2 separate regions of the Homo sapiens genome follow, and region 2 is linked to region 1. Evidence: fine-mapped expression QTL. A gene starts in region 1. The other region holds a variant in brackets. All regions are shown on one strand. Distances are between the middles of the regions.

Region 1 (8,500 bases):
GCAGCTCCTCAGGCAGGTCCCCGCCCTCGTTGATGCCCCGGTTCATGGCCACAAAGCGCTCCAGGCCCGGCTTGTCCCGGACATTGGGATTGTGGAGACTGGTGTTGAGCATGATGACGGCGAAGGACAGCACATAGCACGTGTCTGCACCGGACAGGGCAGGTGGTGACGACCCAGGCATGTCAGTCCCCAGTGCCCCCATTCCCCAGGACCCAGGATTCCCAGCTCCCAGCCCCCTCCCTCCCTCAGACCTAGGAGTCTGGGCCCCAGTCTCCTCTTTCCCAGGACCCAGGATTTGGGGCCCGCACCTGTGGACTGGAAAACCCCAGGGTTGCACAGGCAGTATCGCTGGGCGAAGGCCTCCATCATCCGGTCAATTTTCTGGGCCTCTCCGGGTAGGCGAAAGCTCCATAGAAACTGCCTGGGTTGGGGAGGGGCCAGGAATGGATGCCAGGGCTGGTGGGAGCCTGTCCCCACTCTCAGTCCCTGTGTTAGGAACTGGTCCACGAGGAATCCCGACCTTCCGGCCTCAGCAGTTGTTTCAGGTATGGTCACATGATCCAGTCTCACCAATGGGCATTGGCCACGGGAGTGTTGTGAATCCCTACAGAAATAGCCTCTTTCTGCTAAGTTCGCTAGACAGGTCTGGGGGTTGGTTGAGGCTTGTTATCAGGTAAGCGGGTCTGCAGAGAGCAATGCTGACACAGTGGCAAATACAAGAGGCAAAGAAAGTCGACTTTCTGACCACCATTTGAGCTCCTGGATATAGCCATACCTGAAGGAGGCCATAACCCTGAACTTTTATGGTGCAGGACACACTCAGTTCCCTAGTTTTTGTTTCTGTTTTGCTTGTTTCTGTTTTTTTCTTGAGTAAGGTTTGTCACTTGTAACTAGGAAGGCCCTGACAGGTACATTCCTGGCGTTCCAAACCCCTCCCCCTCACTCACCTGAGGGCCTGCACCAGATTGAGGTCGGTGAACTCATGCAGATCCACAAAAGCATGGAGCACTGCCAGGTTCAGTTCTTCCCTGGAAGGATGGGACAAAGACACATACAGTTTGGAAAGGATGGGGCAGGAATGGGCAAAGGGCAATGCCCTGGGGAAGTCGTGCCCCCTCTACTGCACCACAGCTGCCCACTGCCGAGGGTGAAGTTTCCTGCTGGACTCCCACACAGGCCTGCCCCCAGGGTGGGGGATGCTCAGAACACACTCTTGGGAGGAATATCTGGCTTGGGAACCCTGCTTAGGCCAGACCTTTGTACAGTTGGGAGAAATGCCGCAAACATGTATGCTACCTACTGTCACCTCTCTCAAATGATCCCCATGCTCCCCAGGTATCCAGACACAGCCCCCACATCCCCCAGACATCCAGAGATGCTTCCCAAGCACCCCAGATCTCTATAAATCCCTGATTCCCAGACGTCCACAGATGGCCTCCAATCATCTGATGTCCAGTCCTGTGCACCCTAGGCTTCCAAATGACCCCCACAACTCCTAAGCTCCCACAAGGGCCCAGCGGTCCCCACAGCTCCCAGATGGCCACCCAGTGCCTATGCACAGCCATGGTCTACCCACGGTTCTCAAGCTCCCATGATCCTTGAGAGATGTTCTCTACCCTTCTCAGACATAAATGGATGCTTCCCCACAACTGCCAGGTAATTCCAGAAGGCCCCACATCCCCAGATGCTCTCGGTTGGCCGCAGGCTCCCCTAGCCCATGTCAGTCCATTCTGTCACAGTCCAGTCAGAAGGCTGATCTGCCAGGGCCCCTCTGCGGGGAGGCTGCAGGGCTGTTCCACCTGTGAGCTGCCAGTGTGAGGGCAGGAGCTGGGTCTGGGGGGTGGGAGGGAGGGGCCCCACAGGAGCTGAGTGGTGACCGTACCTCTCCCCCAGGTAGTCCCCGATGGCTGTCTTGTTCAGCCCCTCGCCCTTGTACAGGAAGCGGGCGATCTCCTCGGGTGTGTTCTGCAGCAGTTCATTCTCCACCAAGAACTGGATCCCCTGGTGGGTGGGGACAAGGTCTCAGTGCTGAGGGCCAGAAAGCCACCCCACTCACCTCCCTGGGAACCTCAGCATCCAGACCTACCCCCACCCTCAACAGACCAGGGCCAGGTTTCATTTTCAGCCTTCTCACAGGTCTTAAATAGCATTCTTCCCAACTCATGGCCTTTGCACTTCATGGCCTACCCTCTCTGCCTTTGCCTGGTTAATTCCAGCACCAACAACAGGGTCTGGCAAGGCACAGGTGCTCAGTACATTTTCTCTTTTTTCTGAGACCTGGTCTCGCTCTATTGCAGACTGGAGTGCAGTGGCGTGATCACAGCTCATTGCAGCTTCGAACTGCTGGGCTCAAGGGATCCTCTCACTTCGGCCTCCTCAGAAGCTGGGACTATAGGCATGCCCCAACACACCTGGCTAATTTATTTATTTATATTTTTTCTAGAGATGAGTTATCACTATGCTGCCCAGGCTGGTCTCAAATTCCTGGCTTCAAGCAATCCTCCCTCCTCGGCCTCTCAAAGCACTGGGATTACAGGCATAAGCCACCGAACCCAGCCAATCAATGTTTGTTGAATGACTGAACAGAATTCCAATTGCTTCAGGAAAGAATAACGTGACAACCTGTTAGCAGACGCAGTCCTTCAAGGGCTGTGAACTCGAAGCCCTGGCTAGACTGGAGGTTTCTCTCACTCTCTGTGCTACGAAGACCTCTCTACTACTGCTTTATCTCACTGTGAACTGTGGTATCGGTGTCCAAGGGCTCTCTGAGCACAAGGCAGCATCTAATTCTTCTTTGGGTCCCCAGCATTGCCCTACACAGGATCAGACTCTTGAGAGGCCTCAGAAAATGGGTGTTAAATGAGTATGTGAACAGGCCAGGCACGGTGGCTCATGCCTGTAATCCCAACACTTTGGGAGGCTGAGGCGGGCGGATCACCTGACGTCAGGAGTTTGGAAGCAGCCTGGCCAACATGGTGAAACCCCATCTGTACTAAAAATACAAAAATTAGCTGGGCATGGTGGTGGGAGCCTGTAAGCCCAGCTACTTGGGAGGCTGAGGCAGGAGAATCGCAGGAGGCGGAGGTTAGTGAGCCGAGATCACATCGCTGCACTCCAGCCTGGGTGATAGAGCAAGACTCTGTCTCACACACACACACAAAGAGTAGGTGAACAAAAGCCTTTCCTCCACCTGGTGAACACCTACTCATCCTTCAAACCCGACCTGAATGTCTCCTCCTCAAGGAAGCCCTCCCTGACTCCACCAGCCTGCCTCCTCCAGAGGTCCACTACCCTGATACCTTCCTCCGTCACGGCACCTTTGTGGGAGAGAGGTCAACTCTCCTTTGTGCATGTCACTTTGTCCACAGCCCCTACAAGACTCGAGCTCATCTTGGGACCAGAAATGCGCCCATACAAGTAGAAAGTGGAAGACGACCTTCCAGGCAGGGGACAAAACAGTCAGGAGGGCTGGAACACTTGGTCAGTGTTCAGTGTTCAGAAAACAAATGGACAGCCAGTATCTGAATCCAGGGATTAGGACCAAGTCTGTCCACCTAGAATAGACCCGGCACCATCACGCTTCTGGAACCCGGAGGTGCCAGAAGCCCCTGCCTGGATGTTTGCCCAGCTGATCCCAGTCCTGTGGCCCCAAGCACCTTCTTGGGGTCCATGTTGAACTTCTTCCTGCCCATTGCCATCTTCCGGTTCCGTTGCAAGGTCTTACTGCAGGAGCAGAGAGCAGGGTTGGGGGTGGAGGGTCAATGCCTGGGCATCCCTGGCCTCAGCCAACCCCACGCCCCCTAGGTCATCCGCCCCAGCCCTCACCTGCCCTCATTGGCCTCCAGCCCCTCCACCTCGCTCATGGCTTCACTGAGCTCCTCCCGCAGGCGCTGAATCTCCACCAGCAGCTCCTGCTTCCGCCGCCGGATGTTCTCCAGCTCCATCCGCTCCTCCGGAGTCAGGTCTGGGGGTTCTAGGGATCGGGGTCAAGGTTTAAAAGTCAGTGCTAGGGGCCGTGAGCCTGAATTCCTGCAATCTGGGGGCGGACAGAGCTGGGAGAGGATGTGTAAGGGGCTTCCTATGTCTGCACAGAAGAATGGGCTGGGGGCCTGGATTCCTCCCTGCAGAGGAGAAAGAGCTGGGGCTCTAAACTCTTGAGTCCTGGGGGACAAGGGGAATTGGGGCCCGGATTCCTGAGTCTGAGGGAGAAGGGGAATGGGTGCCTGAGCTCTTAGATCTGAGGGAAGAAAGGGCTGGGGGCCTCGGCTTCTAGGTCCATTACTTGGAAGGGGACTGAGGCCTTGGTTTTCTGACTCCATTACTGGCGAGGTAGCTGGGGACCTGGTTATCCGGACTACTGGGTCCATGAAAAGTCACTACAGCCGGGGGAACTGATGACAGCTCAGGAGAGTTGGGAAGGTGGGGCGGGACATCGAAGGCCCCCGCCCCCCAAGATTTCTCCCCTCCCCGCAACCCAAGCGCCCCTCCCCGGCCCCGGCAGGCGCTGGGCTCGCCCGCCCCTCCAGCGGGAATGGTTCCGCCCCGGCCTCGCCTCCACCACTCCATCCCGCCCCTCCCGCCGCCACCGGAAACAGGCTCAGCCCAAACAATGGCCTGGAACGCCCGGCTTTCGGGCCCCGCCGGAAGCCCGTCCAGCGCCCAACAAAAGCGGCGCGACAAGTCTACGACTGAGCCGAACGCTTCTGGGCGCCGCGCGCCAGGGGGAAACGTTCGCGGCGGAACGTTCAGGAGAAAACGCTCCAGCAACTCCCAGCCGACCCCGCCCCTCCCCGACCTACCATAGACGCCGTCCTCCATGGCGGCTAGGAAGGCCCGCGGGGAATCCGGGGCGGTCCCGCCAGTCGGGCCTGGATCCGCGTTGGCCCGCGGGCTCGGGTGAGCCCGCTCAAACGCCCCGGGAGCCACCGCCGCCTCCTCAGCGCCAGTCCTCAGCGCTGAAAAGACTCTTCCCTTCGTCGCCCAACCGCCCCTTCAGTAGGGACCGCCCCTCTTTTTGACACTGTCCAATCCACAGTGGGCGCTTTCGTCCTCCCCGCCCTCGCCACCAAAGGATCGTTCTCCAGGGCCAACAGTCGTACAAAAAGCCGGTGTAGGTATGTCCGGCCAGAGGTAGACGGCCCGCGGGGCCAATCGGAGTGCAGGCAGGGCAGCAGGCCCCGCCTCCGAAACAACAGAAAGCACTTGACAGGCTTGCTCTCCAATGAGAAGCCCCGGAAAAGTGTCGCGCGGAGGCGGAGCCACGCGGTACAGCCACCTCTGCGCCTGCTCAAAGGCCCTGGACACTTGGAGTCTAGGTAAACCGAGCCCCGCCTCCGATAATACGTTGCTAGGGGGCGGTACTTTGTTAGTCTTGTTGCTAGGAGGCGGGGCTAGAACTGGCTTGTTTCCGTAAGCCACACCTCCTAGCAGGCCATGCTGGCTTCTGACCGCAAAGGTTGCCATGCAACCGGGAGCGGCTTTAGGCCTCCTTTTCTTTTGCATTTCTTCTCCGCGTATTTCCCCTCCTCTCAGCCCCTTCTTACCGCCGAACTCCTTCTTTATCACCATCTATGCCCTCCCCATCCCCCTCAGCCTCTTCGGAGTCGTGGAGTGGTGAAACAAAAGACTTCTTCGTTTTTTCTTTTTTTTTTTTTTTTGAGACAGAGTCTTGCTCTGTCGCCCAAGCTGGAGTGCAGTTGCGCGATCTCGGTTCACTGCAACCTCCGCCTCCCGGGTTCAAGCAATTCTCCTGCCTCAGCCTCCCGAGTAGCTGGGATTACAGGGTTGCACCATGATGGTGCATGCCTGGCTATTTTTTGTATTTTTAATAGAGACGGGCGTTTCACCATGTTGGCCAAGCTGGTCTCGAACTCCTGACCTCATGATCCGCCCACCTTGGCCCTCCAAAGTGCTGGGGTTACAGGCGTGAGCCACCGCGCCTGGCCAAGATTTACTTTTTTCTAAATGCTATGCTATTTGGTATCGGTCATGGGGAATGGAACAGGGGAAGGTGAAATTTAGTGAAAGCACAGGCTCGGCCTTCCTGGCACCTTCTGCCGCTCAGACTCCTCCCTCATTTCTCCAAACTCCTTCCTTTAGCTTAGCATCCTCCTAAGACTCCTCCCTTCCCCAAGCATCCTCCTGCTAAGACAACTCCCCTTTCCTCAGCATCCTCCCACCTCTCTGATTCCTTCTCCCATCTCAGAGGCCTTTTTTCCTCTCTGGCTCCCCTCACGTCACGGTCCCCCTTGTCCTCTCATACTCTTGCCCTTTTTTTTTTTTTTTTTTTTTTTGAGACAGAGTTTTGCTCTTTTGCCCAGTCTGGAATGAACTGGCATGATCTCAGCTCACTGCAACCTCCACCCACAAGGTTGACGCGATACTCCTACCTCAGCCTCCCAAGGAGCTGGGATTATAGGCGCCCACCACCATGCCCGGCTAATTTTTGTATTTTTAGTAGAGACGGGGTTTCGCCATGTTGGCCAGGCTGGTCTCAAACTCCTGACCTCAGGTGATCCACCCGCCTCAGCCTCCCAAAGTGCTAGGCGTGAGCCACCGTGCCCATAGGCGTGAGCCACCGTGCCCAGCCACCCTTGCCCTTCTTAAACTCCTCCCTCCTCTGAGGCCCCTTCCCCTTCCCCTTCCCCAGCCTCTATGTCCCATTATTTGTAACGGAATGTGGTCAAGGGACTGGCTGGAATAGGGAACCCAGGCACCCCTGTAAAGAGGGAAGCCGTAATGGGGGCTGAAGTGGTGTCTGGGCCTCGTCCTCATTTGCTGTCCCTGGGCTGGGCAGGTGGAGACGGATTCAGGGCCAGGACCTAGTTAAGCTGTCGGATTAGACATGGAGGCTCCTAATCCCCTCACTGACCTTTATGAGTGGCCCAGGCCCTGCCCTCCCCAGTGGAAACCCAGGCTGGGCTGCCCTGCTCCCATACTCCTTTCAAACGAAACCCCCTCCCTGCCCCTTCACTTCCAACTTAACATCCTTCCCCAACCCTGCGTTTCCATTGCCCCCATCCCTACCTACCCCAGACACCCTGAGCTGAGAGAGCAGCCAGCTAATTAATCCCATCCGGTTATTACATGGGGATTCTGAGGGATAAAGGGAGATGGAGAAGCTGGAGGGGGCATTTGGGTTGATGCAGCACTTGTGAAGGCTGAATGGCAATGACAGTGGCTGCCCTCGGTCCAGAACACGGGGTGGGAACACGTCCTCCTCACTGTCACTGGCTCCCTCTGCAGTTGGCTCCCAGCCTGCGGGGCACTTAGGTAGATGGTAGCATGGGCAGGGGGCCAGGTCGGAGGACCCATGCTCGAGAAACACATTCGCAGACACATCCGCTAGGGCTCCCAGTTCTTTAATCTGGGGGACAGGTCTCCCCCTAAAACACTCACTCTCCCACAATGGGAAGAACCCTGGTGTCCAGAGCTACCTCCTCCTCCCCAGGTCCCCAAGCTAGGCCAGGGAAGTGACTCTGGCTGTTAGCCACAGCCCACGCCTACCCTTGCCCTGTGATTCAGACACCCGAGTTCAGAGCCAGCCTCCAAGAGTATCTTACATCCCAGCGTCTCCTGGAAGGCCGTATGATCCAGCACTGGGGAGAGGAGGGAAATCCCCAGGACTCGAATGCCCATCCCACCCTTGGTGTAGTGAGGACTCATCCTGCTGGAAAGGCCCCTGAAGAACTTCAAGTTCCAATATCCCGTTTTTACAGATGGGGAAACTGACATGAAGAGGAGTCCAAAGTGACACAGTAAGTTGGGGCAGCATTGGGATTTAGAGCAAAGCTTCTGGGGTCCTTGAAAAGGACCTCATTCCAATTAGCTAGCACTCCATCTCTAAGCCTGTTGTAGGGACCAAGGGAAAAAATAGATAGATATCTGTATTTATATTACATATATATAATATACATATGTATAATATCTTTAAGAAACAGACACACGGCTGGGCATGGTGGCTCACACCCGTAATCCCAGCACTTTGGGAGACCGAGGCAGGTGGATCATCTGAGGTCGGGAGTTCAAGACCAACCTCGCCAACATGGCGAAACCCCGTCTCTACTAAAAATACAAAAATTAGCCAGGCATAGTGGCTCATGCCTGTAATCCCAGCGACTCAGGAGACTGAGGCAGGAGAAACACTTGAAGCCGGGAGGCGGAGGTTGCAGTGAGCTGAGATCACGCCATTGCACTCCAGCCTGGGCGGCAGAGCGAGACTCAGTCTCAAAAAAAAAAAAAAAAGAAAAAGAAAAAGAAATAGACACACATCACTAGGTGTAGGGTTCCAGAGCATTCTAGACTCACCAGCCCTGGGCCTCCCCCTTCCCTTGTCCACTAATTAGCCCTGTGCCCTACAGGGTCTCACCTTCACCTTCACCTTCCAGGTCAGGCCAGAAATGTTGCTTCTGAAGTCCTGAGTCCACCTCCTAGCACTGCCAAGCAGTCCACCTGGAGGTGATGAGAACTTCCAGGCTTTGGTAATGGACAACTCTGTATC
Region 2 (8,500 bases), 23 kb after region 1:
TGTCCAGAGGGATGCCGGACGCTGCAACTTCTCCTGCACAGGGACCCTCCCAGCTCCACAATGTCAACCTCTAGCTTGGCTGTCATGTCACAGCGGCTCCTGTCCTTTCTGTGCCTCAGTCTTCTCCTACAACGAGCAGGCTGGGCCCCGATTCTCAGTTGCATCTAGAAATCTACAACTCTCTGAAGCTCTCAGCACTGGCCGTACAGACACCTGTACTTCTGCCCACAGGCAGATGAGAGTCCTAGTCTCTGCTGCCCCAGCCCCTTCCATCTCTTGTCAGCTGTTCCCCTGGTAGAGTGAGTGACCCCAAGAGTGGAGACCCGCCACCCTTCCTCTTGCTGAGCCTCAGTTTCCTCCTCTGTACCCTGAAGAGGCAGGAGTCTAGTTCTAAGGGCTCTCCAGCTCTGGTTGTGTAAAACTATTCAAGGAGGAAAAATCCTACAAATCCCAGGGGCTGCTGGGAGCAAGCTTCTCTAGCCCCCAGGTGTCCGGCTGGGAAAATACCTTGAACTGCCGAAGGTCCCAGATCTTGAGGGCCCCATCATCCCCGCCACTGAGCAGGAAGGGCTCCCGGCGGCTCCAGCTGATGACATTGACGTCCCCATCATGGGCGGTGGCTGTGGTGAGCATGCAGGCCTTGCTGGGGGCTGCCCGGATGTCCCAGATGCGGATGGAGGCGTCAGCTGAGCAGGAGGCAAACACCTGGGGGAGGCGGAGTCTGAGTGGTCCCAATGCCCCCCAGCCCGCAGTGAAGCCCAAGCGCCAGCGGTGGGCTACTCTCTCTTTCACTGTTCCCCTTACTATGACTTGGCCTGGAAACTAAACCTCCGTCAGGCTCCCAGCCCTCTTTTCCCTCAGACCTAGGATTCTAGGTCCCTGGCCTAGAATCCATCAGAACTAAACGACCAGAACCCCACCCTCCCTCACCGTGTTCTCAGTCGGTGACCACTGCAGGTCCTCCACAGAGCGTGTGTGGCCCACGAATGGCCGCTGGTCCACGTGCCAGGAGCCGCCGTCCGTAGGTGTCCAGAGGTGGATGTTCTTTTGACAGTCACCGGTCAGCAGGCGACCTGGGGAAGGGAGTCAGGAAATGACCTCGCCCCACCTGGCCGCAGCTCGCTCCCCTCCTTGGAGTCTAAGCGCCCGGCCCCTTGTTGCAGACCCTGCTCCCCCGACCTCCCGGGACTCCTGAACACCCCAGGGACTCACCGGTCACCCGGGGGGACCAGTCAAGGGCAAAGCCCTCGCCCATGTGTCCAGCGAAGGAGAAGATGGGCTTCATTTGGGCCTGCTCATCCCGGAGGAAGGCTGCCAGGGCCTGGGGCTCCTCCACCACCTGCAGAAGCCGCCGCAGCGCAAACACCTCCACCTGGCCCTTCTCTGACCACACCCCAGCCACAGGCTCTTCACCCAGCCATGACACCTGCAGAAGAGCGGTGGGGGAAGGGTGATGTGAAGCGAGGGGAGAGGAGGATCAAGGCACTGACCCCACGCTCCCCATATCCCAGAGAACCAGAAGTGCGCTTCCTCAGATCTCCCAGGCCTGGGACTACAGCTCCTTGAAACCTCTGTGGGAAGAAAATCACAACCTGCAAAAACCAGCATGGTAACTGGGACAGCTCTCCACAGGGGGTGGGAGTGGGTGGGGGAGCTGAGGTGGGAGGATAGAGCCCCAGGATGCCTGGGAGTTGAGGCTGCAATTCCCACCAGCCCTTGGGAGGGTGTTCAGGCTCCTGGTCTCGGTAACCCTCTAAATGCTAGAAGGCCACAAGACTCAGTCCTCGGATCTCCTTGCCTCTGTGTTTGTTCACTAGGAGACCCAGTCCAGCCACGAGGTTTCCAATACCCCTAGCCCTGACCTCTCCCCTGGGCTCCAGACTCTTACTGCATTGACCGTTCAAACTTTTTTGTTTTTGAGACAGGGTCCCGCTCTGTTGCCCAGGACGGAGTGCAGTGATGCCATAATGGCTCACTGCAGCCTCAACCTCCTGGGCTCAAGTGATCCTCTCACCTCAGCCTCCCAAGTAGTTGGGACTATGGGTAAGCACCATCACATCTGGCTTTTAAAATTTTTTTGTAGAGACAGGGTCTCACTTTATTGCCCAGGCTGGTCTGGAACTCCTGGTCTCAAGCGATCCTTCTGCATCAGCTTTCCAAAGTGCTGGGATTACAGGCATCAGCCACTGTGCCAGCCTGACCATTCAAACTTGATACAACCAAAGCCAAGCTCCTAATTGCCACCTGCAACTGCTCTCTCTCCACCTCAGGCCCCAAAATTCAGAACTCATTCTTGGTCCTCATGCCCAGCACCTATGCTGACTACAGTAAAAATGCTCACTTCCAGGGCCAGGCGCGGTGGCTCGCACCTGTAATCCCAGCACTTTGGGAGGCCGAGGAGGGCAGACTGCCTGAGGTCAGGAGCGAGACCACCCTGGCCAACATGATGAAACCCCGCCTCTACTAAAAATGCAAAAATTAGTCGGGCGTGCTGGTGGGTGGCTGTAATCCCAGCTACTTAGGAGGCTGAGGCAGGAGAATCGCTTGAACCCAGGAGTCAGAGGTTGCAGTGAGCCGAGATCGCACCATTGCGCTCCGGCCTGGGCGACAAAAGCGAGACTCTGTCTCATCTAAAAAAAAAAGCTCACTTCCAACCCCCTTCTCATGATGTCTATTGCTGTCACACTACTACTGATGTCATCCTTCCCCTGAATACCGTAAGTCTCCCCACAGGATTCTTTCCTCCGACCCTTACCTCTCTGCAATTGATATTTAAGGACAGCAGCCAGAGGGACCACTTTAAAACAGAAGTCAGACCCTGTCTTTCCTCTGCCTGAAACCCTCCAACGTCTCCCAATTAAAAGCTGGAGTCCTTACAGTGGCCGACAAGGCTCTGAACAATGTCTTCTCTGTGCCCGCTCCCCAAATTGTGTCATTCTCCCTTTTGTTCATTCTGCTCCAGACAGACTGGACACTCCCGCTTCACTTGAAACTCTTCAAACATGCCAAGCTCACCCCAGGGCCTTTGAACTTGTGTTTTTCCTTGCCTGCAAATTCTTTTACAGGGTTCACTGCCCCACTACCTGTGAGTATCTATGCAAATGGCATTTTATGACAGAATACTTTCCTAACCACACTGTTTAAAAATAGCACCCCACTCCTGGAGCACCCTAACCCTCTTCCCCTACTTCATTGGATTTTTTCCAGGATAGTTAACACCTTTGGACATGGTACACATTTACTTAGTTTCATCTCGTTCCCTTCCCCCACTAGTGTGTAAGTTGATGGAGCCAGAGACCTTTTGCTTGCTGCTAAATCCTCTGCATCTAGAACAGTACTGAAACATAGTAAAAATAATTTCATGGAAACAGACAGCCCCAGCTATCAGCCAAGTACTGCTCTAAGTGCTCTTCATATACCGTATCATTGTACTTACAAGTCTACCTGATCAGAAGATGTTTTAGCTTTGAAGCAAAAAACAAATAAACAGGCTGGACACAGTGCCTCATGCCTATAATCCCAGCATTTTGGGGGCGAAGGTGGGCAGATCACTTGAGCTCAGGAGTTCAAGACCAGCCTGGCCAACATAATGAGACTCCATTTCTACTAAAAATACAAAAATTACTGGGCATGGTGGTGTGCACTTGTGATCCCAGCTACTCGGGAGGCTGAGGCAGGAGAATCACTTGAACCTGGGAGGCAGAGGTTGCAGTGAGCCAAGATCACGCCACTGCACTCCAGCCTGGGCAATGGGAGTGAAACCATGACTCAAAAACAAAACAAACAGCCACAACCAAAAACAGTTCCTGAATAGTAACAGAAAATACATACCTCATATTACAACCAGGTGCTATTCTAGGCACTATATGTTATTTCATTTGACCTCATGCCAGCCCCATCAGATAAGTTCTATAACTCACTATGTTACCAAAGAGAAAAGTGAAGAACATAAACCATATCCTCATAATCTAAAACAGTACCTAACATGTAATGACACTGATCATAATAGCTAAATTGTATAAAACTATGTGACAAGTACTTTTCTAAAAACTGAAGGAGGCCGGGTGTGGTGGCTCACGCTTGTAATCCCATGACTTTGGGTGCCCGAGGCGTGC[G/A]GATCAATCACTCGAGGTCAGGAGTTTGAGACCAGCCTAGCCAACAAGGCGAAACCTTGTCTCTACTAAAAATACAAAAAATTGGCCAGATGCGGTGGCTCACGCCTGTAATCTCAGCACTTTGGGAAGCCGAGGCAGGCGGATCACGAGGTCAGGAGTTCACCACCAGCCTGATCAACATTGTGAAACCCCGTCCCTACTAAGAATACAAAAATTAGCCGGGCGTGGTGGCGCGCACCTGTAATCTCAGCTACTTGGCTGAGGCAGGAGAATCGCTTGAACCTGGGAGGCAGAGGTTGCAGTGAGCTGAGATCATGCCATTGCCCTCCAGTCTAAGCGACAGAGCAAGACTTCATCTCAAAAAAAAACCAAAAAACAAAAAATTAGAAGGGCCTGGTGGCAGGCGCCTATAGCCCCAGCTACTTGGGAGGCTGAGGCAGGAGAATCCCTTGAACCTGGGAAGGGGAGGTTGCAGTGAGCCAAGATCGCACCACTGCACTCCAGCCTGGACAACAGAGCGAGACTCCATCTCAAAAAAAAAAAAAAAAAAAATGGGCCAGGCACGGTGGCTCACGCTTGTAATCCCAGCACTTTGGGAGGCAGAGGTTGCAGTGAGCCGAGGCTGCGCCACTGCACTCCAGCCTGGGTGACAGAGCGAGACTACGTCTCAAAAAAAAAAAAAAAAAAAAGAACATGAGGAGGTGTTGGGAGTTATGGACACAGGGGATGGGTCAGATGTGTTTCAGAGTATGCAGAGCAGGCTCCTGGGACCATACTTACCCGAACTCGGTTGATGCCACCATAGTGGGGCACCATGGCCAGCTCCAGCTGAGGTTTCCGCTCTTCTTCATCCTCTTCATCTTCCTCCTCTTCTTCTTCATCACTGCCCTCTGAGGGTGGGGGCTTTGTCCCATGCAGATTGTGCATCCGAAGCATCATCAGTCTGGGAGAAATTGTGGGGTGAGTTAGGCACTAGATTCCAGGATTCTTAGGAAGGAGAGAGGCTGGAAACCCAGACTCCTGGATCTGCGAGAGGCAGAAACTGGAAGCCCTAACTCCTGGGTGCTGAGGAAGGGGCTGGAAACTGAGCCTCCTGGTCCTGGAAAAGCCTCGGGTCTTACCTGTTGCTCTGGGCGCTCTCAGCCTGGGTCCCAGCACACAAGTAAAGTGTAAGAGGAAGCTCTGTCCGGTTGTCTCCCAGGTGATCCCGGACTATGTCAAAGCTGAGACAGGGGGCGCCTGGGGATGGAAGGCGGGGTTTACGAGTTAAGACGGGACAGTAAGAGCTCAGTCCCCACCTCCCTCATGGATCAACCGCCTCCGGTATGAAATCACTTCTCTTAGACCCCAGCCTTCTCTTCCCGAGCACCTCTCAGGTTAAAGGCTCGGGATCAGCCACCTCAGGACCCTGGAGTCCGGACTCAGCCCTACCAGTCTGCGCTCGGTGGTAGAGCACATAGGCCTCCTCGTCCATGACCAGCTCCTCCCCTTCGCGTAGCGGCGGCCCCCGGCCGGGCAGGTAGACCTGGGCCGGGCCCTCGGAACTTGTGTCGCCGGACTCGGCTTCCATGGGTTCCCCGGTTTCACACGTGCGCCGCCGACCCTTGCGCGCCGCCATCTTCGAACCCTCTCGCTGCTGACACCCGGTAAGAGCGTCACTTCCGGGTTTCGCTTTCCGCCTAATGAGATCCGCCCTACTGCGCGGTTACCTTGGAAACTCCTGGGACCGCTAATCGGAGAGGGTGCGGAAACGCTGGAGGAGAACTCAGGTAATGGCGCCAGCGAAAGAAGCCTGCGGATACGGAGAAACTGCATCTTCGCGTGACTTTGGGCGCTGTTCCTCGCGGTAGTGGCAAGGCCTTCTGGGAGTTGTAGTTCTACGGGAGGCTTGTTTTCCCCATTGTCCAGTTTGATTCCGAGAGCGTTCTTTCCAGTTAATTAATTATTCATATATGCAAATTTGCTCTTTCACTGGCAAGGAGACTGAGTTTCTACTCCCCGAGGACCCATAAGGCCGGTTTCTTTTCCTCTCTCTGTTGTGATGGCTTTCATTTGTTTCAAAAATGCTTTCTTGTAGACAGGATGGATATTATCTGTAAGTTAGGCGGTTCAATCTACCCTCTAGGGGCAGTCAATTGCCTAACCAGACATTCACATTTCAGCTCTGGTCAGCGAGCACTTAATCAGAAAGTCCACCCTCTGGAGGCAGCTATTACAAGTGCTTCGTCTCTCTTTATCGCCCATCAGCACCAGCGGTTTGGCTAATTGACATAATGAAATGTTAGAAATAGATTCTCATTGGTGAGATTAACAGCATTCAAGATAATGCGGATTGGCTGGGATATGTCAGACACTCTCCTAGCTTGCATGAACAGGATATTGAGAATGTAGCAAGCCTTGGTACCTATAGCCATAGGAAATAAAACCATACCTTTGATCTTAATATGTTTTGTCTCCGGGATCTATCTCACCACTCTCTTGGGGTCTCTTATCTGCCCCAGTACCCTCTCGACTTTCTTTTCAGGGTCTCTTCCCACCTCCTCTTTCTTGGTCTTTGTCTCCCCAGGCACCTCCTTTCAGAGTCTCTGTTCTCTCTCTAATTCTGTCTCCTCTTCCCCTGTGGGACTTTTGTGTTTCTGTTTCCTCCAGAGAATTTGAGGGGGGCTAACAGATACGGAGCTTAGGCTTGGACTGAGGAGGCATAAAAACATGGTTTATTCCAAACACTGCAATGTGGAATAAGAGAGTGGGAAGGGAAGTTGGTGGAGAAGTGTGGACTCCCAGACCCTCCCCTCCGCAACCCAGCCCCAGACCCGGCTGGAGATCTGGGCAGAGGAGGCTTTTTGGAGGTCTGCTGGGTCATCACTGAAGGGTCGCAAATAAGGGTTGGATTTGGAGAGGATGTGCTTGGTGGCAAGTGGGGTGGTCCGGAGGTGCGGCAGGGTGGGAAGTTTTGGCTTCAGGGAGGTTGGGTTCATCGCGGTGCAAGGGAAGGCGGGGCTTCCGTTGGGGACGTGTCCTAGGTCAGAGTAGGGAAAAGCGACCGAGGGTGGAAGAGGAGGAGGGGGTGTCACGGTTTGATGTCAAGGGTCACAGTCTGGTCGGGGCACAGTCTGGGGTTCGGGTCACAGTTTGGGGTCAGGGGTCACAGTCTGGAGTCGGATGACCATTTTAGGAGTCGGATGTCACAGTCTGGGTCAGGGGTTTCTGTGTGGCGGGGCCAAGGTCTGGGGTCACAGTTTGGCGAACGCGTCTCACAGTTTTGAGTCCCAATGGATGAAAGGTTAAAAACGGGCTTCCCCGGAGGCGCGGCTGGGGCCGGGGAGCTGCACAGTGATGTGGGGGCCACGGCCCCGGGCGTGGAGGTGGGACGCGGGAGTGGCGTGAACCCCCCACCTCCCGCCCCATCTGGTGACGTTAAAAAGCCCTTGTCGGGTTTAAAAAAAAGTCCGGTGGGCTCCAAGGCCCCCGCCCCCTCGTTCTCAGGCTGGGTGATAGTTGAGGGACCAAATCCTCTCCGGCTTGCGGTTCCTCCAGAACCAGGGGGCGCAGGACGCTGCTCCAGGCGGGGTCCGGCCAGTTCCACTGCTTTCCTTCCCAACCCACGCGGGTCCTGTCCACTGCGGGCGCCCCCTCGGGCCGTGGCCTGCGCTGACCAAGGGGGCGGTGGGGCCCCCGGGGCCGCGTCATACCTCGGACTCGAGGCTAGAGAAGTGCGCCGAGCCCCTGCGGGTGCCCAGGTCCCCGCCCCGGTGTCTCCGGTGGGAAGCTGTGGGCAGCGGCGGCCCCCAGTGCGCGGCGTGCGGACACCTGCGAGCGTGGCGGGAGGGCCCGGTAAGCCTGCGCGCAGGGGCGGCGCGAGGGCACGAGCTGAGGTCCTCGAGCGAGCGCGAGGTGGGCGCGGGCGGCGGGAGGTCCCAGCCCCCAGCGGCGCGCCGGTGCCTGTGGTGGTGGGGCGCGGCGGCGGCGGGCGTGCGGTGCGAGGCCCGCGGGCGGTGCGGGTGCGACCGCGGGCACCCGCAGCGGGCCCGGCGTCGGGGCAGGGGCCCGGCGGCCCAGGGTGGAGGCGGTGGCGCCCACCAGCCGCCGTCCAGGCCATCGTGCGAGCAGCTGAGATGGCGCGGCGGCGGCAGCAGCTCCAGGCTGGCGCAGTGCCGACAGTGCCAGGCGGCCGGACCGCTGCGCGGGGGCAGGTAGTCCCAGCTCCCGGCGCGCCAGCCCCCGAGCTTGTCGACCGACCAGTAGCGGCCGGGCGGCGGCCCGAGGCGCTCGGCATACGGGTAAGGGAAGTCGGCGAACCACCAGGGCTCCAGGCCGCCCAGCGACGCGCCGCCCAGGCTCTCCGAGTCCTCCGAGTCCGACGGCGACGGCTCGAGATCGAGGTA

Evidence for each region.
Region 2: its variant is fine-mapped to the expression of CYTH2 in transverse colon (GTEx, PIP 0.96). The same link has a PIP of 0.9 or more in fibroblasts.

What each region holds. Positions count from the first base shown.
Region 1 is chr19:48,465,826-48,474,325 of GRCh38, reverse strand. CYTH2 (cytohesin 2) reads right to left here and starts at 4,957. Exons shown (of 12, transcript NM_004228.7): 1 at 4,800-4,957; 2 at 3,826-3,973; 3 at 3,657-3,723; 4 at 1,883-2,001; 5 at 948-1,028; 6 at 309-421; 7 at 1-144. The coding sequence starts at 4,818. KCNJ14 (potassium inwardly rectifying channel subfamily J member 14) reads right to left here. Exons shown (of 3, transcript NM_013348.4): 3 at 7,346-8,500. LOC105372430 (a long non-coding RNA gene) reads left to right here and starts at 4,793. Exons shown (of 3, transcript NR_186576.1): 1 at 4,793-5,315; 2 at 7,719-7,757; 3 at 8,388-8,500. RefSeq lists silencers at 507-707, 4,752-4,941 and enhancers at 4,305-5,298, 5,492-5,651, 5,356-5,856.
Region 2 is chr19:48,443,239-48,451,738 of GRCh38, reverse strand. GRIN2D (glutamate ionotropic receptor NMDA type subunit 2D) reads right to left here. Exons shown (of 14, transcript NM_000836.4): 14 at 6,808-8,500. The coding sequence ends at 7,802. GRWD1 (glutamate rich WD repeat containing 1) reads right to left here and starts at 5,756. Exons shown (of 7, transcript NM_031485.4): 1 at 5,547-5,756; 2 at 5,237-5,354; 3 at 4,896-5,058; 4 at 1,213-1,426; 5 at 931-1,073; 6 at 508-705. The coding sequence starts at 5,733. RefSeq lists enhancers at 5,676-5,765, 5,926-6,005, 7,178-7,869. The variant G/A (reference allele first, on the strand shown) is at 4,116.